Linked DNA regions of Homo sapiens. The protein of the gene in region 1 purifies or fractionates together with the protein of each later gene. This does not show direct contact. Each region holds a gene or a part of one and is shown on either strand. Other genes may lie near its edges.

Region 1 (12,735 bases):
TTCAGCAAAGGTTCAGACCCCAGAAAAAAACATCAAGATAGGATATAACAAATGTGTCTTTGCTCATGTATCTAGCAGGAGAAAAAGTTACTTTTTAAAAAATTTAATGCAGCCGGGTGTGGTGGCTCATGCCTGTAATCCCAGCACTTTGGGTGTCCAAGGCAGGTGGATCACCTGAGGTCAGGAGTTTGAGACCAGCCGGGCCAACATGGAGAAACCCTGTCTCTACTAAAAATACAACAAGATTAGCCGGGCATGGTGGTGCATCCCTGTAATCCCAGCTACTTTCAGGAGGCTGAGGCAAACCCAGGAGGTGGTGGTTGCAGTGAGCCGAGATTGCACCATTGCACTCCAGCCTGGGCAACAAGAGTGAAACTCTGTCTCAAAAAAAAAAAAATTTAATGCATTTTAATACCTTTGGTCTATGTACCCAGTTTCTTTTTTTATATTGTTTATAATAATGTAGTATGACTTTGTACCAGTTCTCAAGGACTAAGTTATTAAAGTTTATAATAAACCTTTAAAATTTATATTTCTGGCATATGATGTTAATTGGAGAGAGAAAAAAAAAAAAAAACACGTACCAGTGGTAATATCTTGGTGTGGTGGGATTACTGGGTAACTTTTATTTTATATTTTGTATCTTTTCCTAGTCCCAGCAAACTGACAGTAATGACCACATTACCTATATTATCAGAAGAAGCAGTAATTTATTTAAAATCTTTATTCTGTATGGCATGGGCATCAGATGGTATTAAATAAACTTTCTTAGATTTTACTATAAAGTGTAATTTCTTAATATTCACAGAATAGATATAATGTATAATTGAAGGAGCACTGGACCAGGAGTCAGAAGACCTGTATGTGGGTTTCCATTTTGCCAATTATTCGCTGTGTGACCTTAGGCAAATGCTTTTCTTTGGGACCAGCATCTCCGCTTATGAAATAAGCAAGTTGCCAGGTGTCGTGGTGCACACCTGTAATCCCACCTACTCAGGAGGCTGAGGCAAGAGGGTCACTTGAGCCCAGGAGTTGGAGACTGCAGTGAGTTATGATTGTGCCTTTGAATAGTCACTGCACTCCATCCTGGGCAACCTAGGGAGACCCCATCTCAAAAAGCCTAAAACAACAACAAGAAATAAGTGAGTTGTGCTCTGGATTTCATGAGGAACATCCTGGCTCTAAAATTAATGGTAATTTTCTTAGAATATATGTTACCCCTAAATTGACCGAATGGTCAAGAATGTTGGCACAAAATGATCCACTCATCTGAGAAGAATCTGTATGTTGAGCTGAAAAAGTAGTTTTATTCTACCTTCAACATCTTTTATTTGACAACTTATATTCGTTAAATTGACTTTGAAAATATACAGTACTCAATCTAAAGTAAAAATCTGAGTATTTAGGCTTTCAAATCTGAGATAGCTTGCCACATTGAGCTAATACATGAGATTTGTATTCCTGGGAAGCTACTGAATATATCTGTGCCAAGTTGCAGCATTACCATCCATCAGGACTTCCTCGCTCTTGTTTACTGTATGTGGTTTAATTCTGTGTGTGATATTTCTCTGTTGATATTAATATAGGTCTCTCGGCTGCTGGGGGCATTCCACAACCCAAAACAGGTGACCAGAGGTTTTACTGGTGGTGTGAGTATAATTATGTCTTTTATTTTTTCCTTTTAGAAGTTTCTCAAGAAAGATGCTCTAACATATTTATTATATAGCATTTTATCTCCATTCATTTAGAATTTGGGAAAATTGGCCATATTTATAATGTATGTTGAAATTACTGGCTGACATGCACAAATCTGTTAGGTTACTTGCGCATTTGAAAGAATTATCTTACAGCTGGCTATGTAAGTTTGTCACATTAATATCTTGAGGGAGCCTTGTTAAAAATAGAAAGTACCCTTGAGCCTGTTATTTTATTTCACAATCTCATTTTGGTGAGACAGCTTTTTTCAAAACTAGTACAAGTTGAGAGAAAATTGTTGAGAAGCTTCAAAACCTGCTTTGCATTTTTATTTTATGGGCTTCCCTAAACCCAGTAGATTGAGTGCCAATTAGGAATGCCTCGAACATCTATAAGCCTTGTAGGCTTATACTTGCCTTATATAGGCTTTGTAGACTATCACAGTAGTAGATCATCTATTGTTCATTAAATCTGCTGCTTTTAGAATTCCCAGCATCAGAATTCTGTGCTTTAAAAGCTGATACCACATTTTTGGAACATTCTAAGACTGTGGGTCAGTGACTTCCTATTTGTTTTGATCCCCGCCCCGCCTTTTATGGAATCTGATTTGGATTTCATAATTCCTATACTCCCATATAACATCTATGCCGTGAAAGATTTATAAGACCATAGTACATTTTTTCCTCCATTTACTTTCTGTATTGTGGAAGAAAAGCAGATTTTCTGGTGACTGGATGACATTTATTATTACATGTTGGGAGAACAGGAAGAAGTAGCCAAAGCGTTCTTTTGGCTCTGCTTATGCCAAAAATGCAGGATGGGGCTTGCACTTCAAGCTCAAGGATAGCCATGCTAGCATTTCAAACGCATTCTGAAAGCTAATAAGATGATCATTGCTCTCTGCTATTATTTAATTTTCAGGCTATTTATTTGAAAAAAAAATTAGCTTGATGGAGGAGGTTATTTTTGAAGAAATAAGAGGATGTATTAATTTTTTTAAAGACTTCTTCAACCCGAGAAAACTGGTATGAGCCTTAGCCCTGGCTAAGACTGAGGTGGGAGATTTGCTTAAGGCCAGGAGTTCGAGGCTGCAGTGAGCTGTGATCACACCTGTGAGTAGCCACTGTGCTCCTGCCTGGCAATGTAGTGAGTCCTCATCTCTAAAAAATAAAAATTGAAAATTAGAAAAATGAAAAAAATAAAAATGTTTCTTCAGTTGTACAGAAACTAATCAGAAATAATTAGTCCACGTATCTGGGCAGACATCATTGGAAGGCAAAGGACCAAGGAAACTTGAATTAGTGACTTTTTAAAAATGCAGTTCAAGCAACTAGAACTGAAAAAAAGCCAAGCCCCTAGGTGGGGTAAAGTCCCAAGATAATAAAATATGTGGTTCCCAAATGGAAAAAGAGGTGCTGATCTTCTCCCTTACATATTTTTATTTCTGCATTTGAAATGCTGGCTTCGTTTTGCCTGAAGCCTTAGAATAAATCATTGCTGTTACATTATAAAAACAATAATTGTCATTCTAAGTGTGACTCAGGCTTTGCAGGTATGATGACATATACTATTCTTTTTGGTTGCAGATCAACTTTGCCAAGCTTATGTAGATTACTCTTAGATTTAAGCAGACAGTTTTATAGAGGAACTAAGAAAAAAATGGAAGCTCTCTTGATAAAAAGTCTGATTTTCCCTGAGTACCAAAACAGACCTCAGTAATATTTTGGAAATGTGTCTGAAAATGTTTTGCAAGACTGAAGAAGTTGCATGAGAAGCTTTCCAGGATCACAATGGAAAGGAAAGGAAAACACTTGCCTTCATGAGAAACCGTCTAAATTTTAGTGAGAGAACATTGTTAATTTTTTGTTGTTGTTGTCTTTGGTTTAAAAGATTTGAATTAATTGGTCTCTTTGCAGCTTGTCTGAAAAGAAATATCAATTAGGAAATCTACTTGGTAGTTTAATTTATTTTCGTTTTATGTAAAGAGTATCATTTGGTTCTTTTTAAAACCTCTGAACTCAGGTAAAGAGTAGGATTGCAGAGTCTCTCCTCTGTTGATTCCTGCCTCCCCTTTGATGACCCCCGGGGAGGTATGTTTGTTTTCTTAACAGCATTTGAATCTTCCTGAGACATCTCATAAAGTGGATTTCTCTGTCAAAATATTCTTTTTTAAGCCTTCAAAAACAAAAATTCTTACTGTCTTCTTTGATGATTTCTTATGTTCAGGTTCAGACAGTAACTTTAATTCCAGGAGATGGTATTGGCCCAGAAATTTCAGCTGCAGTTATGAAGATTTTTGATGCTGCCAAAGTAAGTGGGCTTAAAAAATACATTTAATGATGACTCACTGAAAAGTTTTCTTAGCCAGTTGGATTCTGTGAACTTTTAGGATGCATTGTACCCATTTCTATGAAATTTAGTCAGGTCTGTTGTTAATCTCCACCGATTGTCACTTTAACAGTGTGTGTCTCAGTGTTTGCTACTGCCATTATTTCTTTCTTTCTTTTTTTTTTTTTTTTAAATTTAGAGATGAGGTCTCGCTCTATTCCCAGGCTGGTCTTGAACTCTGGGGCTCAAGCGATCCTCCCACCTTCACCTCCCAAAGTGCTTGGATTATAGGCGTGAGCCACCGCACCTGGCTGGCTGCTCCTGTTGTTGATAGTTTAAACTCCTGCATTGGCATCAGTTATATGTAAAGTAATCAAAGTAGTACTGCAGTATTTGTGGATCTTTAAGTCCTGCTTGGGTTTAAGATCTTTTAAGCCCTGCCAAATCACCCACCTTTTTGCAAAAAATAAAATAAAATAAGACTAGAATTGCTGTTTCCAAAATCTATACAGGCGCTTTTGAAATAATCTCTTTAAAATAAAATTTCTGATGTGTTATCAAGAATGGAATGTTATTACTTCTAACAGCTGAGCCTTTGATACAGGTAGATAATTTAAAAATTCTGTAAGTGGATTCAGCTGTAAGCTGCTTGTGAACAGCACCGTGTCTGTCTGAGCTCGTGTCCTAGGACATGTTCAGTGTGCTAGCTGTATACACATGAAGGATGTAGGTAGAGAGAAAGGGATGCTTGTTTATACCTCCAACTGGTACATTCATAGGTTATGCAATACATACATACATATATATATATATATTTTTTTTTTTTTTTTTTTTTTTTTTTTTTGAGACAGAGTTTTGCTCTTGTTGCCCAGGCTGAAGTGCGATGGAGCAATCTCGGCTCACTGCAACCTCTGCCTCCCGGGTTCAAGCGATTCTCCTGTCTCAGCCTCCCAAGTAGCTGGGATTACAGGCACATGCCACCACGCCTGGCTAATTTTTTTATTTTTAGTAGAGACAGGGTTTCATCATATTGGTCAGGCTGGTCTCGAACTCCTGACCTCAGGTGATCTGCCCACCTTGGCCTCTGCACCGGGCCTGGCCTATATATATATTTTAAACAATGTAATATTGTTTTTTAAAAACAGCTTTATGGAGATATCATTCATCCTTTATTTTTTATTTTTATGTTTCATTTGTTTTGAGACATTGTTTCGCTCTTGTTGCACAGGCTGGAGTGCAATGGCATGATCTTGGCTCACTGCAACCTCCGTCTCCCAGGTTCAAGCTATTCTTCTGCCTCAGCTTCCCGAGCAGCTGGGATTACAGGTGCCTGCCACCACGCCCAGCTGATTTTTGTATTTTTAGTAGAGGCGGGGTTTCACCATGTTGGCTAGGCTGGGCTGGAACTCCTGACCTCAGGTGATCCACCCACCTTGGCTTCCCAAAGTGCAGGGATTACAGGCGTGAGCCACCACACTGGGCCTAATTCATCCTTTTAAAATGTACCTTTCAATCCAGTGGTTTTTAGTACATTCACAGAGTTATGCAACCATCACCACAATCTAATTTTGGACCATTTTCCTCACCGAAAAAGAAACCCCATACCCTATGCAGTCGCTCCCCATTTCGTCTCTCTCCCTCCCTACCCCCTCCTCCTTTTTCTTCCCCCACCCTAGGCAGCCAACCACTCATCTACTTTCTGTATCTGTAGATTTGCCTATTTGGGACATTTCATATAAATAGAATCTTATAATATATGGTCTTTTATGATTGGCTTCTTTCACTTAGCATGATGTTTTTAAGTTTCATCCATGTATCAGTACTATATGATGTTTCTGTGAACCATATTCCTCTGCTACTTATGATATTCTAACTATAGCCACTGTTAAGAGCCCTTGTGAAAAGAAATAAGTGGGCAGGTGGTAGCTGGGAGTGATGACTGGGCACAGATAATGTAGAGAATCCCTCTGGGCCTGCTAGAGAATGACATCTCTTCTTGCATGCCAGGAACCTTCTGGACCTTTACTGTTTTTAGCAGTCACATCCAAAGTTGAAAAAGGGCTGGGCCCGGTAGCTCACGTCTGTAATCCCAGCACTTTGGGAGGCCGAAGTGGGCAGATCACCTGAGGTCAGTAGTTTGAGACCAGCCTGGCCAATATGGTGAGACCCTGTCTCTACAAAAAAAATACAAAAAAATTAGCTGGGTGTGGTGGTGGGCGCCTGTAATCCCAGCTACTCAGGAGGCTGAGGCATGAGAATCGCTGGAACCTGGGAGGCGGAGGTTATAGTGAGCCAAGATTGTGCCGCTGCACTCTAGCCTAGGCGACAGAGCGGGACTCTATCTCAAAAACGAAGTTGAAAAAGTTTGTTCATCATTGCAGTATGAATGCCAGTTTCCTTTAAGTCTCTCCAGCTCACTGTGCTCTGTGATGTGGCATCTAGGCACCTATTCAGTGGGAGGAGCGGAACGTCACTGCCATTCAAGGACCTGGAGGAAAGTGGATGATCCCTTCAGAGGCTAAAGAGTCCATGGATAAGAACAAGATGGGCTTGAAAGGTAGCACTGAAGTAGAGACGGGGGTTTTTACAGATTTCCGCTACAGGGGTTACTTAGTTTTGAAAATTTATGCATTTAAACTGAATAAGGCCTGGCCATCTGTGAAGGTAACGCCATTCTTTTATGAAGTAACTACTCATAGTAAGATGTTTTATTCATTTGGGACATTTTTTTCCCCCAGTAAAAAACATTAAAGTATTACTGGATGATGCCAAATAACAGTATCTCTATTTAATCTTCAACTATATATATCTTTTGCTTAATTTTTACATTTGTATATTTATTTATTTACTTAATTTTTTTGTGACAGAGTCTCGCTCTGTTGCCCAGGCTGGAGTGCAGTGGTGTGATCACAGCTCACTGCAGCCTTGACCTCCTGAGCTCAAGCAGTCCTCCCACCTCAGCCGCCCGAGTGGCTAGGACTACAGGTGTGCCACCATGCCCAACTAATTTTTTAAAAAGTTTTTTGTAGAGATGGGGTCTCACTATGTTTCCCAGGCTGATCTGGAATACCTAAGCTCAAGCAATCCTTCTGCCTCTGCCTCCCAAAGTGCTGGGATTACAGGCCTGACTTAGCCACTGTGCCTGGCCTACATTTTTATTATTATTTTAATTAATACATGTTTAAGGCCATAATTCAAAAATACTAGCATGTGGTAGATTTAAATTCAGCATAGGCTTTATTTTTATATTTTTTGAGAGTCTCGCTCTGTTGCCCAGGCTGGAGTGCAGTGCCGTGATCTCGGCTCACTACAACCTCCGCCTTCTGGATTCAAGCTATTCTCCTGCCTCAGCCTCCTAAGTAGCTGGGATTACAGGCACACACCACAACGCCCAGCTAATTTTTGTATTTTTAGTAGAGACAGGGTTTCCCCATGTTGGCCAGGCTGGTCTTGGACTCCTGACCTCAAGCGATCCGCCTGCCTTGGCCTCCCAAAGTGTTGGGATTACAGGCCTGAGACTGTAGGCCAGAGCAAGCATAGGCTTTAAAGCCACAGACAGAACCAACATTGAATCTCATCTCTGCTACTTACTGGCTAGAAGGCTTGGGCAAATTTTTTATTCTTATTTTTTCTTTTTTCGTCATTTTTAAATGACAGTAACAGAGTTGCTGTTGTACGGGGTGATGATAAGGATTATATCATGTCAAGCACATGATTACAATGCTTGATCCTCAGGAAGTTCTGAAGATAAGAAACGCAGTTAATGTTCCAGAAAGCTCCCGTGAGGAAGTGTTCCTCCTTCATTTGAATCTCAGGTAGAGAGTGAACTAGAGGCAGAACACATTTCACAAGGTAGCCGAGGTGGGTTAGTAGGTCACACGTGAGACCAGAATTCCTTCTAGTGTCATCTGGGTTTTCTTCTGTATAACAGGCCCTTTGAAGACCCCAATAGCAGCCGGTCACCCATCTATGAATTTACTGCTGCGCAAAACATTTGACCTTTACGCGAATGTCCGACCATGTGTCTCTATCGAAGGCTATAAAACCCCTTACACCGATGTAAATATTGTGACCATTCGAGAGAACACAGAAGGAGAATACAGTGGAATTGAGCATGTGGTATGTTCACTCCAGATTCTTTTTTATTCCTGCTTGGACTGCTTTCTGTGCATCTGGGACCCCAGAGACAGATCTGCTTTATCTCTGTGAGGAGTTGTGGGTGTTTGTCTTGGTGCTGGGTGTCTGGCTGACAGTACTCAAACAAATGTAAGGCATGGTGGTTCGCGTCACAAGCTTGGGAATATGCCCTCTGAATTTTGAATCCCCCACTTCACAGGTGCGCTCTTCCGCAGATGACTGTCTCTGCATCTCAGTTTTCTTCATCTGTGCAGTGGGGCTCATAATACTTACCTCTTAGGGCTGGAGTTAACATGAACCCCATTGTCGTAGCAGTGTGTGTGATTAGTCATGCTAGCTGGCACTGTGCAGGCCTGCCACAAATGTTACTGTCTACTCCCCACCCTCTGTCTCCCACTGCGTTGCTGTCACACTCTTTCCAGCAAGGTGGGACTTCCTGTCTTGCAGATTGTTGATGGAGTCGTGCAGAGTATCAAGCTCATCACCGAGGGGGCGAGCAAGCGCATTGCTGAGTTTGCCTTTGAGTATGCCCGGAACAACCACCGGAGCAACGTCACGGCGGTGCACAAAGCCAACATCATGTGAGCTCCTTGCGGGGGCCGGCACCCCATCTTGCTTTGTTGTGGGAGAGCAGTGACAGGGCTTCCCTTTCTCCTCTTCAGCTTGTTCCTTGATTCCTAATATCTTTGAAAAAGAACTTTGTAACAATCCAAAGATACGGCATCTCTCTTCTGTCGGAGTCTCCTCTTTTCTCCTCTGTTTTTTTTTTTTTTTTTTGAGACGGAGTCTCTTTCTGTTGCCCAGGCTGGAGTGCAGTGGCGCGATCTTGGCTCACTGCAACCTCCGCCTCCCGGGTTCCAGCAATTCTCTTGCCTCAGCTTCCCGAGTCACTGGGACTACAGGCACATGCCACCATGACCGGCTAATTTTTGTATTTTCAGTGGAGATGGGGTTTCACCATGTTGGCCAGGCTGGTCTCAAACTCCTGACCTTAAGTGATCCGCTCGCCTTGGGCTCCCAAAGTGCTAGGATTACAGGCATGAGCCTCTGCGCCCGGCCTGGAGTCTCCTGTTTACTGCGCCTCCCTGGGCGAATGACAGGAGCAAATGAGGAGGGGATGGTGATTCAGGTCCTGGAAGCTCAAGGAAGGACTGAGGGTTATCAGGAAAGGAAATTGGAGCCTCGGGGTCCCCAGATGCTGTGGCCATCAGCAGAGGCCACATAGCGTACGTTTTAGAAGTGGAATAGTGGGAGGCTTAAAGTAGTGCTAACAATACCTGATGTGTTACTCCAGCAACTTAAATTCTCATCCAGAGGCTGTTAAAGTCCTCTGAATATATTAACAGTTTTCCTAACCTAAGAAAAGCATTGAACATGCAAAATAGTAAAACTATTTAAATTACTATGTTAACCTTTTAAAGCAATTTTAATAATATTAGTGGGTATTTCTTCATTCTTGTTAGATAACACTATAAAAATATAGTCTTCTCTGTTATGATCAAACTATTTTACATTTTTACTCTTTTATACTTTCAGAAGGATCCTAAAACATTTTCAGCTTATATTTTATTAACTACCTAAGAAATAATTTTATTGTAATTGGGATCAGGTAGCTTGGCTTCTGGAACTTAAATGTCTTGAACTTACTTTACTTCTTTGATTTGATTCTTTTCTTTCTGTAAGACTTTTTTTTCAGCAGTTTTTATTTGATTAAATACAGGCGGATGTCAGATGGGCTTTTTCTACAAAAATGCAGGGAAGTTGCAGAAAGCTGTAAAGATATTAAATTTAATGAGATGTACCTTGATACAGTATGTTTGAATGTAAGTATATATTCACACTTACCTGCTACTTTTTATGGTGAATGGTGTCTGTGTGTTGTGGGGATGCAGATTTTGATTACTAAATGCACAAATGTATTCCTTGTAGATGGTACAAGATCCTTCCCAATTTGATGTTCTTGTTATGCCAAATTTGTATGGAGACATCCTTAGGTGAGTCTGGCTGCAACCTATTTATTTTAGCCTATGATTTACTTATAAACATCCTAAAATAATTATGGCTTAACATTTTCAATTGAGTATTGTGAAATAGAGTATTTGTTGTAACATATGAATTGAATTCTAACAGTTCAGGTTGTGATATGAATGATTACATGTTGGGTGGCTTGTTCCTTCATTGATTTGCCAAATCATTGCTGGGCTCTTTCTCCCTAATCATTATTAGGTCACTCTTCCCAGTTTTTAAATGTTTGATTGATTGATTGATTTTAAGGTTTTGTTATGTATAGCTAGGTAGGTGGGTGGTCATTGTTACTATTTTTTGGTAACTTTTGACATAATTTCAGACTTACAGAAAAGTTGTAAGAATAGTACAAAGAATTCCCTTGTACTCAGCACCCTGATTCCACATTCTCCAGATGTCAGCATTTTATCACATTTACTTTATTACTCCTTCCCACTTTCCCTCCCTTCCTCTTCCTCCTCTCCTTTGTCTGTGCTTCTCTCTCTCTCTCTCTCCCCCCCCGACACACACAGACATAAGATGTTGGCCAAATGGTGATTTTCATTTTTTTTTTTTTTTTGAGGCAGAGTCTTGCTCTGTCGCCTAGGCTGGAGTGCAGTGGCACAATCTCGGCTCACTGCAACCTCTACCTCCCAGGTTCGAGTGATTCTCCTGCCTCCCCTGAGTAGTTGGTATTATTACAGGTGCACACCACCACACCTGGCTAATTTTTGTATTTTTAGTAGGGACGGGGTTTCGCCATGTTGGCCAGGCTGGTCTGGAACTCCTGACCTCAAGTGATCTGCCCACCTTGGCCTCCCAAAGTGCTGGGATTACAGGCATGAGCCACTGAGCCCAGCTGTGGACATGGTTTTCTGTTTTATTCAGTGATATATCCATCATCATAATCATGAATATTGATGCATAGGTTGTCCTAACTTGGCTGATGGGGGTCCCTTCACCATGTCTTCTGTGTCCTTTAGACACGGCCCTTTGTTCTTTGAGCCTTGCCTTGCTTTCTGACACAGTAAGATGCTCGAGGCTCATCTGTATTTTCCTAACCTTTGCCCTGGAATCAGCCATTTATCCAAGGAATGCTACTTCCTTTTAGTGGAGAATGATAATTAAAAACTAAAATCTGGGTGCTAGGTGAGATGTTTTATTTTTAAAAACATTCTTTGAAATGCTTTTCTTCCGCTAGTGACTTGTGTGCAGGATTGATCGGAGGTCTCGGTGTGACACCAAGTGGCAACATTGGAGCCAATGGGGTTGCAATTTTTGAGTCGGTAAGGACCCTGACACCTGAAACAGAACTCAGGTCAGAACAGCGTGTGAACTCAGGAGGAGTTATCTGTATAAGTATGCTTTAACTCCAGTTTTTCAAATTGTCAAAACAAAATGATGCTTTTTTTTTTTCTCGAGACGGAGTCTCGCTCTGTCACCCACGCTGGAGTACAGTGGTGCGATCTTGGCTCACTGCAACCTCTGCCTCCCAGGTTCAAGTGATTCTCCTGCCTCAGCCTCTCAAGTAGCTGGGATTACAGGTGTGAGCCACCACACCTGGCTAATTTTTGTATTTTAGTAGAGATGGGGTTTCACCATGTTGGCCAGGCTGTTCTTGAACTCCTGATCTCAGATGATCCATCCGCCTTGGCCTCCCAAAGTTGCTGGGATTACAGGTGTGAGCCATTGCACCCAGCCTATGTTTGTTTTTATATACACCCATATATAAACATATATATATGTTTGGTTTATCTCTTCATTTCCCTCCAGGTATTTATTATGTATCCTTCCTTCCTTAAAATATTTTACCAAAAATTGACTGAAAAAGATTGTTGGTCCATATTTTTATACTTAAAAAAATTACTTTAGCTCTTTATTTCTCCAAGTCTTTATTTATTTATTTATTTATTTTTGAGCTAGGGCCTTGTTCTGTCACCCAGGCTGGAGTACACTGGTGTGATCATAGCTCACTGCAGGCTTGAACTGCTAGGCTTAAGCAATCCTCCTGCCTCAGCCTCCCAAGTAGCTGGCACTGTAGTCAGGCACCACCATGCCTGGCTAATTGCTAATTTTTTTGTAGAAATGGGGTCTCACTATGTTGCCCAGGCTGGTCTTGAACTCCTGGCCTCAAGTGATCTTCTTGCCTTGGCCTATCAACGTGTTGCGATTACAGGTGTGAGCTATCACGCCCAACCCAGACTTTATTTCTTCAGTCCATATCAGATGAATTGCACGCAGTAGCTTTCAGTGCATATTTTGTATTGCTGAGGAAAGATGGTTAAGACTCCAGCTTCCCCAGAAGAGGACTGTTAGTTTTTGTCTCTCCCTTGATGATGCTACTTTTCCCGATGTGTAGGTTCATGGGACGGCTCCAGACATTGCAGGCAAGGACATGGCGAATCCCACAGCCCTCCTGCTCAGTGCCGTGATGATGCTGCGCCACATGGGACTTTTTGACCATGCTGCAAGAATTGAGGCTGCGTGTTTTGCTACAATTAAGGACGGAAAGGTAACAGGAATCTTGATTTACTTGTGCTGGGTAAAATGCATTGCTTCCATGTGTTTTAT
Region 2 (12,700 bases), on another chromosome or scaffold:
TGCTAATAGTGATTGACAGAGGAGCAACAAGGATGCTAAAAAGTCATCACCTTTTACTACTTGTCTTTGCATCTTGGCTCTCACTGCCTAGCTTTCATGCTGTATCCTCTAATACCTTTTCATCATAATTTTAATATCCTGAACATTGTTGAAGAAGTGCAATGTTTGGAGAACGTTCGGGGTAGCTCCACCACCCCACTTTCCACAAGCCATGCTTCTACTTTCCCTTCTAGCCTCATATTCAACCATTTTCGCTATTGTTGTTCTTTAATCTCCTTGGGTCCTCCAGTCCACTACTGCCCCCTCTCCTTTACTCCTTCCAGTCCATCAGGCTTCTCCTCTTGGATTCATGGTCTTTTATTTCAATAACATTCTCACCAAATACTCTAAATTGCCTTGACCCACTGCCACTTCCTCATTACAATTTGGCAAAACCACACCCTGAATGAACACAATGGTTTGCTTTCCCTGTGTTTGCCCCGGGCCTCCCAGGCTGCTGGAGAAAAATTACACAATAGGCACATTTTTGTAGGTATATAGTCACCATCACCAACCTCAGATGGTTCTTAACACACCCCAGCAATCCTGCTACTTTTTTCTGTTAACTTTCTTTCCTGCACTCTATAATGAAAACTTCAAACCCTCTTCACTCCCTTCAAATTTCTGACTCCCTCACCTTTCACCTAATTTCCAGTAGATCATTTTGACTCCTTTCACTCAGACAAAATCTAAGCTTTTGACAGGACCTCATTCAATTCACTTGTACAAAACCTACCCTCTACCTACCTCTGCATCTACTTCCTCAGTTTTCCCTCCTGTGGCTTCAGGAGAGGTGTTTCTTCTCTCATCCAGGCTAGTGTCTCGACAAGAGTTGTAGAATTCTTTCTATCCTCAAGAGGCCTACTGTGTTATTTAATCATTTTCTCTCCTTTTATTGTTTGCTATTATTTAACCTCTCACATGCACCTGAATTATTCCCATTAAGTCTTAATCATACTCAGATCTCTTCCATCTAAAATCCAAACAAATAAACAAATGAAAACAAAATGAAAGGAACAAAAATAGTCAAGGTCATGGTCCTTTTTAACTGCTCTTGTTGAGCCGTACTCTTCATCCTGCAAAGCACATATTTTAGTTTTAGTTATTTATTCATTAGTGTGGGTATTTAACTCGTGTCTGCACTCCAAGTAGAGTGTAAGTCACGTGAACAGTGATGCTGTGTGGATTTTTGCTTGCCATTGGACCTTCAGCTGCTTAGATCCACAGCTGGAACAGAGCTGGCATTCACTCAATAGTTATTTTTTGGTTAAATTTCTTCATTCATTCAGCACTTAACTTCTTGACACTGAATCAGCACCAAAGATCAAGCGCATAGACTTGCCTTCAAGGAGCTCAAGTCTGGAGAGGAAAAGAGGTCAAATACCCCAGTGATTTCAATATAATGTGATATGTGCTGTGAAAAGGCATACACAGCACAACAACTTCTGCCTCAGCCACGGTGAGAGTGGAGCATGAGAGGTAGGCAGAGGCAGTCAGGAAAGGGTTCCAAGATGAGTTGTCCCTTGCATTGAATCCTGATAGAGTTTGGCTCTGAGTCCCCACCCAAATCTTGTTTTGAATAGTGGCTCCCATAATTCCTCCCTGTTGTGGGAGGGACCCGGTAGACGGATCAAGAGATTACAGGCTACAGACATATTAAGGAGGAAGAAAAGAAGTAGATCTTTCTGTATTCCATTGGCAGGGCAGAGAGGAAATGTGGTATTGTGGGGAAAATTCTGCAGCTAGAGTCGCCAAGTCTGGTTTAGAAGGTCAGCTCCGTCACTTATCGGCTAAGACAATTCTCCTTCCTCAGCCTCCTGAGTAGCTGGGATTACAGGCACACGCCAACACGCCTAGCCAATATTTGTATTTTTAGTAGAGACGGGGTTTTACCATGTTGGTCAGGCTGGTCTTGAACTCCTGACCTTGTGATCCGCCCACCTCAGCCTCCCAAAGTGCTGGGATTACAGGCGTGAGCCACCATGCTCGGCCTTTCCCCCCATTTTAATTTAAGTTTTAAATTATGGGCCCATGAATTTTTATTTTATTAATGACTTGTAATATGATACATTCTTTTTTAATGTTTACATTCATTATAGGTAGATAATTATAGGTTGAGATAATTATAGGTTCACATGCAGTTGTAGGAAATAATACAGAGTGATCCCTTGGACCCTTTACTTAGTTTCCAACAATAGTAACATCATAACTAAGATATTGATACAGTCTAGATACAGAACATTTCCATCACTAATAAGGATCCCTCTTGTTGTCCTTTTATAGCCATACTTCTCTCCCATACCTCTCTCTCATTCTGGCACCTACTAATTTGTTCTCCATTTTGTCATTTTGAGAATGTTATTTAAATGAAATCATATAGGCCGGGCGCGGTGGCTCACGCCTGTAATCCCGGCACTTTGGGAGGCTGAGGCGGGTGGATCACGATGTCAGGAGTTCGAGACCAGTCTGACCAACATGGTAAAACCCAGTCTCTACTAAAAATACAAAAATTAGACGGGCGTAGTGGCATGCGCTTGTAATCTCAGCTACTCAGGAGGCTGAGGTAGGAGAATCGCTTGAACCCAGGAGGCAGAGGTTGCAGTGAGCCGAGATCACGCCATGGCATTCCAGCCTGGGCGACAGAGGGAGACTCCGTCTAAAGAAAAAAAAAAAAAAATGGAATCATATAATGTGTAACCTTTTGGGATTGGCCTTTTTTTTTTTTTTTCTGAGACAAAGTCTCACTGTTGCCCAGGCTGGAGTGCAGTGGCCGGATCTTGGTTCATTGCAACCCTTGTCTCCACAGTTCAAGCAATTCTCCTATCTCAGCCTCCCTAGTAGCTGGGACTACAGACATGTGCCACCATGCCTGGCTTATTTTTGTATTTTTGTGGAGACGTGGTTTTACCATGTTGGCCAGGCTGGTCTTGAACTCCTTCCTGACCTCAAATGATCTGCCCGACTTGGCCTCCCAAAGTGCTGGGATTACAGGCATAAGCCACCATGCCTGGCTGGGATTGGCTTTTTAAACTCAGTAGAATTCTGAATGTATTAATCGTTTATTCCTTTTTATTTCTTAGTATTCTGTGGTATGAATTTATCACAATTTGTTTAGCTATTCATTAATTAGAGGACATCAGAATTATTTCTAATTTTTGGCTACTATGAATAATGCTGCTATAAACATTAGTGTACAGGTTTTTGTGTGAACACAGGTCTTCCTTTCACTGGGATAAATGCCCAGGAGTGCATTTCCTGGGTTGTACCGTAGTTGCATGTTTAGTTTTTTGAAGAAACTGACAAACTGTTTCCCATTTTACATTCCCACCAGCAATGTGTGAATGATTCATGCCCATGTCAGCATTTTTATTGCACTACTTTTTATTTTAGCTAATCTGACAGGTGTGTAGTAATACCACATTGTTGTTTTAATTTTTATTTCCCCCAATGTCTAAAGATGTTGAACATCTTTTCATGTGCTTATTTGCTGTTTATATGTCCTCCTTGGGAAAATATATGTTCATGTTTTTTGCCTATTTTATAATTGGATTATTTGCTTTTATATGTTGTGTTTGAAAGTAATTCATATATTCTATGTATTAGCTTTGTTGGATGTGGTTTGCAAATATTTTTCCTCTGTGTGTAGCTTGACTTTTTATCCTTTTTTTTTTTTGAGATGGAGTCTCTCCCAGGCTGTAGTGCAGTGGCTCATTCTCGGCTCACTGCAACCTCTACCTCCCAGGTTCAAGCAGTTCTCCTCCCTCAGCCTCCCAAGTAGCTGGGACTACAGGTCTGCGCCAACACACCTGGCTAATTTTTATATTTTTTTATTAGAGATGAGGTTTTGCCACATTGGCCAGGCTGGTCTTAAACTCCTGACCTCAGGTGATCCACCCCCCTCAGCCTCCCAAAATGCTGGGATTACAGGTGTGAGCCACCACACCTGGCTGAATTTTTACCTTAACATGGCCTTTTGCAAAGCCAAAGCTTTTATTTTGATGGGGCACAATTTATCAATTTTTTTTTTATGGATCATGCTTTTGGTGTTGTCTAAGAATTCTTTACCTAGTTTTAGATCTTGAAATTTTCTCCTATTTTTTTCTAAATGTTTTATGGTTTTGTGTTTTACAGTTAAGGTAATTTTGAGTTAAGTTTTGTATAATATGTGAGATTTTGGTCAGGGCTCTTTTTGATTGTTTGCTTGCTTATGGATGTCCAATTCCTCCAGCACCATTTGTTTAAAAGACCATATTTCCTCCGTTGAATTACTTTTGCACCTTTGTCAAAAATCAGTTGGGCATATTTGTGTGAGCCTATTTTTAGGTTTCTTATTAAGTTTCATCAATCTATGTGTCTCTCTCTCCAGCAATACCACACAGTCTTGATTATTGTAGCTATTATAGTAAATGTTGAACTCAGACTGTTTCTTCCCACTTTGTTCTTTTCAAAATTGTTTCAGCTATTCTAGTTTGTCTTTTCACATAAAGTTTATAATACTACGTCTGTATGTATAAAAAGTTTTGCTTGAATTTTAATAGAAATACATTAAATGTATATATCAATTTGGGGAAGAATTGACATCTTTACTGTGTTAGGTCTTCCAATCCATTAACATGGTAATATCTCTTCACTTATTTATCTTCTTTGATTTATGTCATCAGTATTGTGTAGTTTTCAGCAGGTAAGTCCTGTTCATGTTTTATTAGATTTACATGCATTTCATTTTTAAAAGGAATTTTAGGTGGTATTGTATTTTCGATTTGGGTCCATGTGTTCATTGCTTGTACCTAGAAATACAATTGATTTTTGTATATTTTTCTTGTTTCCTGAGATCTTGCAGGGCTCACTTATCAATTCAAAGAGTTTTTTTTTTTTTTTTTTGGTAAAATGTTTGGGATTTTATACACAGACAATCATCTTATTCTTGTCAGGCCTCTGAGCCCAAGTCTGCACGTATTCATCCAGATGGCCTGAAGTAACTGAAGATTCACAAAAGAAGTGAAAATGGCCTGTTCCTGCCTTAACTGATGACATTCCACCATTGTGATTTGTTCCTGCCCCACCTTAACTGAGCGATTAACCTTGTGAAATTCCTTCTCCTGGCTCAGAACCTCCCCCACTGAGCACCTTGTGACCCCCACCCCAGCCTGCCAGAGAACAACACCCTTTGACTGTAATTTTGCTTTACCTACCCAAATCCTATAAAACGGCCCCACCCCTATTTCCCTTTGCTGACTCTCTTTTCCGACTCAGCCCGCCTGCACCCAGGTGATTAAAAAGCTTTATTGCTCACACAAAGTGAGTTTGGTGGTCTCTTCACATGGACGCGTGTGAAAATTGTGTATAAATTACCTGAGGGTTGGTAATTCATAAAGAAAAAAGGTTTATTTGGCTCATGGTTCTGCAGGCTAAACAAAAAGCCTAGAGCCAGCATCTGCTTCTGGTGAGGGACTCAGGAAACTTCCCCAAATGGCAGAGGGTGAATGGGAGCTGGCATGTGCAGAGATCACACTGGAAGAGAGCAGAAGTGAGAGAGAGAAAGAGGGAAGGTGCTAGGCTGTTTTTAACAATGAGTTCTTGGGAGAACTCTCACAGGAGCCAATACAATGAGAACTTCTCATTACCCAGAGGACAGCACCAAGCCCTTCATGAGGGATCGGCCTCCGTGATCCAAACACCTTCCACCAGGCCCCACCTCTAACATTGGAGAATCAGATTTCACCATGAGGTTTGGATGGTCAGATATCCAAACTATAGCAACAATTATGTTATCTGTAAATAGTGAGAGTTTTCTTTCTTTCTTTTCACTCCATATGTTTGTAATTGCTTTTCTTGTCTATTGCACTGACAAGAACTCCCAGCACTATATTGAATAAAAGTGGTGAGAGCGAACACCCTTGCCTTGCTCCCAGTCTTATGAGAAGAGCATTCAGTCTTCTCTCACCATTAAGTATATTAGCCGTAAGTTTTTTGTAATCCGGTTTATCAAGATGAGGAAGTTCCCCTCTATTCCTGTTTATCTGAGTTTTTAATCATGAATGAATGTTGGAATTTGTAAGATGCTTTTTTTGTTTTTTTTTTTTTTGAGATGGAGTTTCACTCCTGTTGCCCAGGCTGGAGTGCAATGGCACGATCTCGGCTCACTGCAACCTCTGCCTCCCTGGTTCAAATGATTCTCCTGCCTCAGCCTCCTGAATAGCTGGAATTACAGGCACATGCCACCACACCCAGCTAATTGTGTATTTTTAGTAGAGACGGGGTTTCTCTGTGTTGGTCAGGCTAGTCTCAAACTTCTGACCTCAGATGATCTGTCTGCCTCGGCCTCGCAAAGTGCTGGGATTACAGGCGTGAGCTACCATGCCTGGCCTGTTTTTTTTTTTTTTTTGTAATGGGGGTCTCATTATGTCACTCAGGCTGGAGTGCAGGGGCACGATCACGGTTCACTGCAGCCTGGACCTCCTGGGCTCAAGTGATTTCCCCCCCATCTCAGTCTCTGGAGTAGCTGGGACCACAGGTGTACACCACCATGACTGGCTAATTTTAAAATTATTTATAGAAATGAAGTCTTGCTATGTGGCCCAACCAGTTTGGTCTCAAACTCCTGGGTTCAAGCAATCCTCCCACCTCGGCCTCCCAAAGTGTTTGGATTACAGGCATGAACCATTGTGCCCAGCTACTTTTTTTGTTTTGATCGAAATTATCATGTGATTTTTCTAACTTAATATAGTGCATTACACATATTTTCAAATATTAAAACAAACTTACATCTCTGGAATATATCCCACTTGGTCATATTGTACAATTCTTTTTATATATTTCTGAATTATATTTGCTAATATTTTGCTATGGATTTTTCCATCAATATTCATGAGAAGTGTTGGTATTTTTTTCTTTTTGTACGGTCTTTTGCTGGCTTTGGTAGTGGGGTGATTCTAACTTCATACAGTACATTGGCAACTGTTCCTTCCTCTTCTATCTTCTGGAAGAGGCTGTATGGAATTGGTGTTAATTCTTGTGTAAACATTTTATAGAATTCATCAGTGAAAGCTTTTGGGCCTGGAGATCTCAGGTTTTTTTTTTTTTTAGTTTAAAAATTACAATTACAATTTTCTCTAGTTAGAGGACTATTTAAATTACCTTTTCATATTAGGTTATTTGTAGTAATTTGTGCCTTCTGAAGAATTCGCTCATCTTGTCAAAGTTGTCAAATTTATGTTATGTGGTGTTATTTATGGCATTCCTTTTTGGTGTCTGAAGGTTCTGTAATTATATTCCCTGGTATGTTCCTCACATTGGTAATTTGTGTCTTCTCTTTTTCTTTTTTCTTTGCAGTCTTGCTGGAGGTTTGTTAAATTTATTTATCTTTTCAAAAACCAGATCCTTGGCTGGGTGTGGTTGCCCACACCTGTCATCCCAGCACTTTGGGAGACTGAGGCAGGAGGATCGCTTGAACCCACGAGTTGGAGACCAGCCTGGGCAACATAGAGAGATTCTGTCCCTAAAAAAATAAAATAAAAAAATCAACCAAGCCTGGTGACACACATCTGTGGTCCCAAACTACTCCAGAGGCTGAGGTGGGAGGATCCCTTGAGCATGGGAGGTTGAGGCTGCAGTGAGCTGTGATCGCGTCACTGCACTCCAGCCTGGGTGACAGACCAAGACCCTGTCAATCAGTCAATCAATCAATCAATAGCTTCCCTGGAGACTCCAGCCTGCCACCAGCTTTGGTAACTAGTGGCCGACTGTCAGGCCTCTGAGCCCAAGCCTGCACGTGTACATCCAGATGGCCTGAAGCAAGTGAAGAATCACAAAAGAAGGGAAATTGGCCGGTTCCTGCCTTAACTGATGACATTCCACCATTGTGATTTGTTCCTGCCCCACCTTAACTGAGTGATTAACCTTGTGAAATTCCTTCTCCTGGCTCAGAACCTCCCCCACTGAGCACCTTGTGACCCCCGCCCCTGCCCGTAAGAGAAAAACCCCCTTTGTAATTTTCCGCTACCCATCCAAATCCTATAAAACAGCCCCACCCCTATCTCCCTTTGCTGACTCTCTTTTCGGACTCAGCCCGCCTGCACCCAGTTAAAATAAACAGCCTTATTGCTCACACCCTGTTTGGCGGTGTCTTCACACGGATGCGCGTGACACCGATCTCTTTGAGCATCAGAAGCGCATGACACCGACCATCTTCTCTTTGAGCATCACAAGCGCGTTACACCGACCATCTTCTCTTTGAGCATCACAAATGGTTTTATTCATTGCTGTAGGCCAAGGGCTCAAGGCTGTTTAGCACGAAGTAGACACTGGGTAATCATTTCTTGAATGAAACACATTTTACAGATGAGGCAACTGAGGCTGAGAGAAGTTAAGATCACCCAAGTGGCGGCGCTGGTCACCTTTACATTGCAATTCACTAGGAAGTGTTCAGGTTGCTCTGACCGCAGGGCAGATATTGGGGCTGCGGTGCCCAGTTCCAAAGGTCAAAGCTTGCTCCGCGCCCGCCAGGGAGCTGGTCTAGCGGCTGCAGTGTTAACCCGAGGCCCCGCCCCCAACGGGTGGCGCGAGGCGGGGCGTAGGTGAGCGCTGCAGAGAGGCTGCGCCTTGGGCCGCCTGTCGCCTGTGCGCCTGCGCGCGGCGCCGAGGGGACGGGGTCCGACTCAGAAATGGCGGCCTCCATGTTCTACGGCAGGCTAGTGGCCGTGGCCACCCTTCGGAACCACCGGCCTCGGACGGCCCAGCGGGCTGCTGCTCAGGTAATGCCTTCCAGTCCGCTGTCGTCTCGAGGGTCGGCAGGAGAAAGGGTGAGGTGTGAGGGGTCCCGTGGCCCGGCTCGGGGTCACTTCGCCGGCAGTGACATTTTCTGGGTGCCCTGCAAGGCCCTCGGGCGACTTGCCTGGGAGTGCTGCTCGCCAGGACTACGAGCGAGCCCATGTTTGCGCGGCTCTGACCCAGCCCTTAGTCCGCGAGGATCCCCGGCGGCCCGGCCGTGGCTGCTCCTGCAGTTTCTAAGAGATGGGCGGGAGCAGGTGGGCTCTGAGTGGAGGTGAGGGGGTCAGGACATTTTCTGCTGCCATTCCGGCGTCTGGCACGGTGGGCTGAGACTTGCGCCGCCCCTTTTTGGGCAGGGGGGAATGCCCTTCAAAAGTACTTTTGTGTTTCTTGGGAGCTGTCATAGGTGGGAATGTCAGAGGACCAGCGGTGCTTACTGACTTGCCTTTTGTGGGGCAAGGTAGGGAAGTTTCCCCTCTCCTCCAAGTAGTTGTATACTGTTCTACTTGTTAATAGCAGTAATAAGATTATGTTTTCTACCTAACCAGTTGGAGAGGTAAGAAAATAATCTTTTGTATAGCCTTATTTCTGGATAGGCTATAGCATAATAGTTACTGGCCTTGTTTTGAATATTTGATGTGTGCCAGGTAATGTGCTAAGCGCTTTACGTGTAGTTTCTCAGGTTTTTCAGCAACTGTGAGGAAGTCATTCAACACCTGCATCATTGTTGAACATATTATGGTTAAGAGAACAAGTAATTTGGACTAGGTCATATAGGAGGTAAGATCAAAGCTGAGATTTAATCCCAGAGGTGTCTGGTTCTAAAGCCGTGTACTTGAGTTGGCTCCACAACTTCGAAAACAAACATCTTCCTTCCAACTTTGACAACAAAAAACTGTGGAAGGGCATTATTGGTGTCCTAAGTCAATTCCAGAGTTTTGGGTTTTTTTCTGAAGTAACTCTTCATACATGTCATAGTATGAATTGATTTAGGGCCCTCCCGCCCCTACCTTTTTTTTTTTTTTTCATTTTTATTGAAGTTGTTCATACTTTCAGCCTAGGGGTAGTGAGTTCTGTGAGTTTGCTTCCCGATAGAAGTGACTTTTTGACCTTGAACTTCCTTCTTATGAATCTTAGAAGAGTGCTATTTAGTTTTTAGAAAATGGGGAATTTAGTGACAAATACGTTTTCATTCTAGTCAAAATCTTTATCTTTTTGGAAGTTCATTTAAAAGCCTTCATTTCTCCTTATGGAAATTTCCAATATTATTTTCTTTATAACAGTTGCTGTCTTCTACCCTGGTATTAAGAAATGCAGCTCTAGAGTTTGGAAGGACCTTAGTCCAACCCTTTGCTTTTGTAGATGAGGACATAGAAGTACGGAGTCTTAAGAAACTCGTTCAAGGTCACACATTTAATTTAGCAATTTGTTTTCCACATTTTTTTTTTTTTTTCCTTGAGACGGAGTCTTGCTCTGTCGCCCAGGCTGGAGTGCAGTGGCGCGATCTTGGCTCACTGCAAGCTCCGCCTCCCGGGTTCATGCCATTCTCCTGCCTCAGCCTCCCTAGTAGCTGGGACTGCAGGCGCCTGCCACCACGTCCGGCTAATTTTTTGTATTTTTAGTAAAGACGGGGTTTCACCGTGTTAGCCAGGACGGTCTCGATCTCCTGACCTCGTGATCCTCCCGCCTCGGCCTCCTAAAGTGCTGGGATTACAAGCTTGAGCCACCGCACCCGGCCTGTTTTAAACATTTGTTTAAGTTCTCTGACCCTCCTCCAATTTCTTGGTATCTTTAGCCTAGTGTACCTTCGTTGAAAATAGATATTTCAGCATATGTCTTTAAGAATAAGGACATTCTTCCAAATAACCGCAGTGATCATACTTAGGAATTCAACATTGCTGTAACATGAATATATATAGTTTAGATTCAGATTTTTCTAGTTGTCCCCAAAGTGTTCTTTATAGACATTAGATTTTTTAAAAATTTAAACTGGGATGAGACCTTGTGACATTTTCTCTGACCAACTAACCAATTAGGTGCCACCTAGTGACTTATGTGCTAGTGACCTAGTGCTCTTATATGTGTTGCAGTTGTTTATTTACATGCCTGTGAACTCTGTGGCTGGGACCCAAGTGTCTTTATTTTTTTAGTGTCCCTAGCCCACTGTCTAGTTCATAGTCATCACAAAAAATATTTGAGTGTATGACTTTTTGCCAGGCTTATGCTAGTTACTCCCCTACCCACTAATTTTTATTATTATTTTGACGTATAATTTATGTACAGTAAGATGTACAGCTTAAGTGGATAGCTAGATTAATTTTTATGTATGTATTCACCTGTGTAACCATCGTCTGCATCAAGATATACAATGTTTCCAGCCCTCAGAAGGCTCTCATGTCCTCTCTCTTATCAATACTCCCTGACAGAAGGTAGCAACCAATTATGACTTCTGTCACCATAGGCTAATTTTGACTGGTTTTGAACGCTATAAAAATAAATCATGTAAGTATATATTCTTGTTTCTGGCTTCTTTCTCTCTACATTATGTTTGTGAGATTAATCCATCGATGTGTGAGCCATAGTACTTTTTTTCTTTTTATTTCTCTGTAGTATACTATTATATACATATACCACAGTTTATCCATTCTCCTGTTGATGGGCAATCAGCTAATTTCTGTTTTCTGTCTGTTATAAATAAGCCTGCTCTGGACACTCTAGACATTTTTATGTGTGCCTTTTGACAGATGTAAGGACTAATTTCTATTGATACATACCCAGGAATGGGATTTCTGAGTCAGAAGGTGGAGGTATACTAAACAGTAGTTTGAGAGGTTGCTGGGTTTTTTTTTCTTTTTTTTTTTTTTTTTAACTTATTTATTTGTTTTTTTAGACAGGGTCTTGCTCTGTTGACCAAGCTGGAGGACAGTGGTGAAATCACAGCTCACTGCAGTCTCAAACTCCTGAGCTGAAGGGATCCTCCTGCCTCAGTCTCAGGAGTAGCTGGGATTATAGGTGTAAGCCACTGTGCCCAGCTTGGTTGCTGGCTTTTAATATTGAAGTGACACTAAATCAAGGAATTGAGCTACCTAGGTCAAATGTTACCAAGGATTTTAGCTTGCTAAATGGATCAGAAATAAGTTGCTATTATATATGATTGATTTGTAAGACTAGTAGTTCTCATAACTGTAGGGTTCTTAAGAATCAACTGAGTGACTTGTTATGAATGCAGATTTCCTTGGGCCCAGTCCAGAGATTCTAATAGTGCAGTTGAGAATGGGTCTCAGGAATCTGCAGATTACAAGCACCCAGTTAATTTTGAGGCAAAAGCTTATGAACCTACTTTAAGAAACAGATTGTTTCTATGACCTCTTTAAATTTAATTCTTAGGACACTGTGTGTTTCATATGAACCATGTTTCAGTATACTGCATTCTGTATTGAGATTATGGAAATGCGTGGATAACATTTAAATGTGTGATTCCATTGACCAGTCATTGGGTGCAGGCTGACAGTGGGAAGGAGGTGTGACTTTGGGCAAGTAGGCTCCAGTAAGAGGACTTGGCTGAGAGCTGTCAGCAACCAGCACTCCCAGCAGCAGCAGTGGGGGCTATGAATGCCTTGGTCCTGAATGGGGAGTGCCAGGGAGATCTGGGCAGCATACTGCAACATCCACTACAGATGAAGCCATGGTTTTGAATATCGAGTGTATGAAAGAGTAATGGTATCAAATCATTTTATTATTACATATCTAGTGCCAGGTGACTTGTTAGGTGTGGAGGAATGGTAGAGAGAAGAAAATTGGGAAGGATTTTTGGTTTGGTGGAAAAGATGAGATTGGTTTTAGATCCGCTGAATTTGGCATTGAGGTAGAACTGCCCTGTAGATCATTGGAG

What was found.
Region 2: the proteins of IDH3A (region 1) and SUCLA2 fractionate together in Homo sapiens (co-fractionation; 2 studies listed by BioGRID). This does not show direct contact.

Annotation. Positions count from the first base shown.
Region 1 is NC_000015.10:78,153,627-78,166,361, forward strand, and holds part of IDH3A (isocitrate dehydrogenase [NAD] subunit alpha, mitochondrial precursor), read left to right. Parts: intron 1-1,586; coding exon 1,587-1,649; intron 1,650-3,281; exon of another isoform or gene 3,282-3,536; intron 3,537-3,921; coding exon 3,922-4,005; intron 4,006-6,465; coding exon 6,466-6,580; intron 6,581-7,954; coding exon 7,955-8,142; intron 8,143-8,607; coding exon 8,608-8,741; intron 8,742-9,880; coding exon 9,881-9,983; intron 9,984-10,089; coding exon 10,090-10,154; intron 10,155-11,365; coding exon 11,366-11,450; intron 11,451-12,523; coding exon 12,524-12,676; intron 12,677-12,735. UniProt on the Homo sapiens protein: Catalytic subunit of the enzyme which catalyzes the decarboxylation of isocitrate (ICT) into alpha-ketoglutarate.
Region 2 is NC_000013.11:47,997,272-48,009,971, reverse strand, and holds the start of SUCLA2 (succinate--CoA ligase [ADP-forming] subunit beta, mitochondrial precursor), read left to right. Parts: upstream 1-8,698; 5' UTR 8,699-8,702; coding exon 8,703-8,792; intron 8,793-12,700. UniProt on the Homo sapiens protein: ATP-specific succinyl-CoA synthetase functions in the citric acid cycle (TCA), coupling the hydrolysis of succinyl-CoA to the synthesis of ATP and thus represents the only step of substrate-level phosphorylation in the TCA.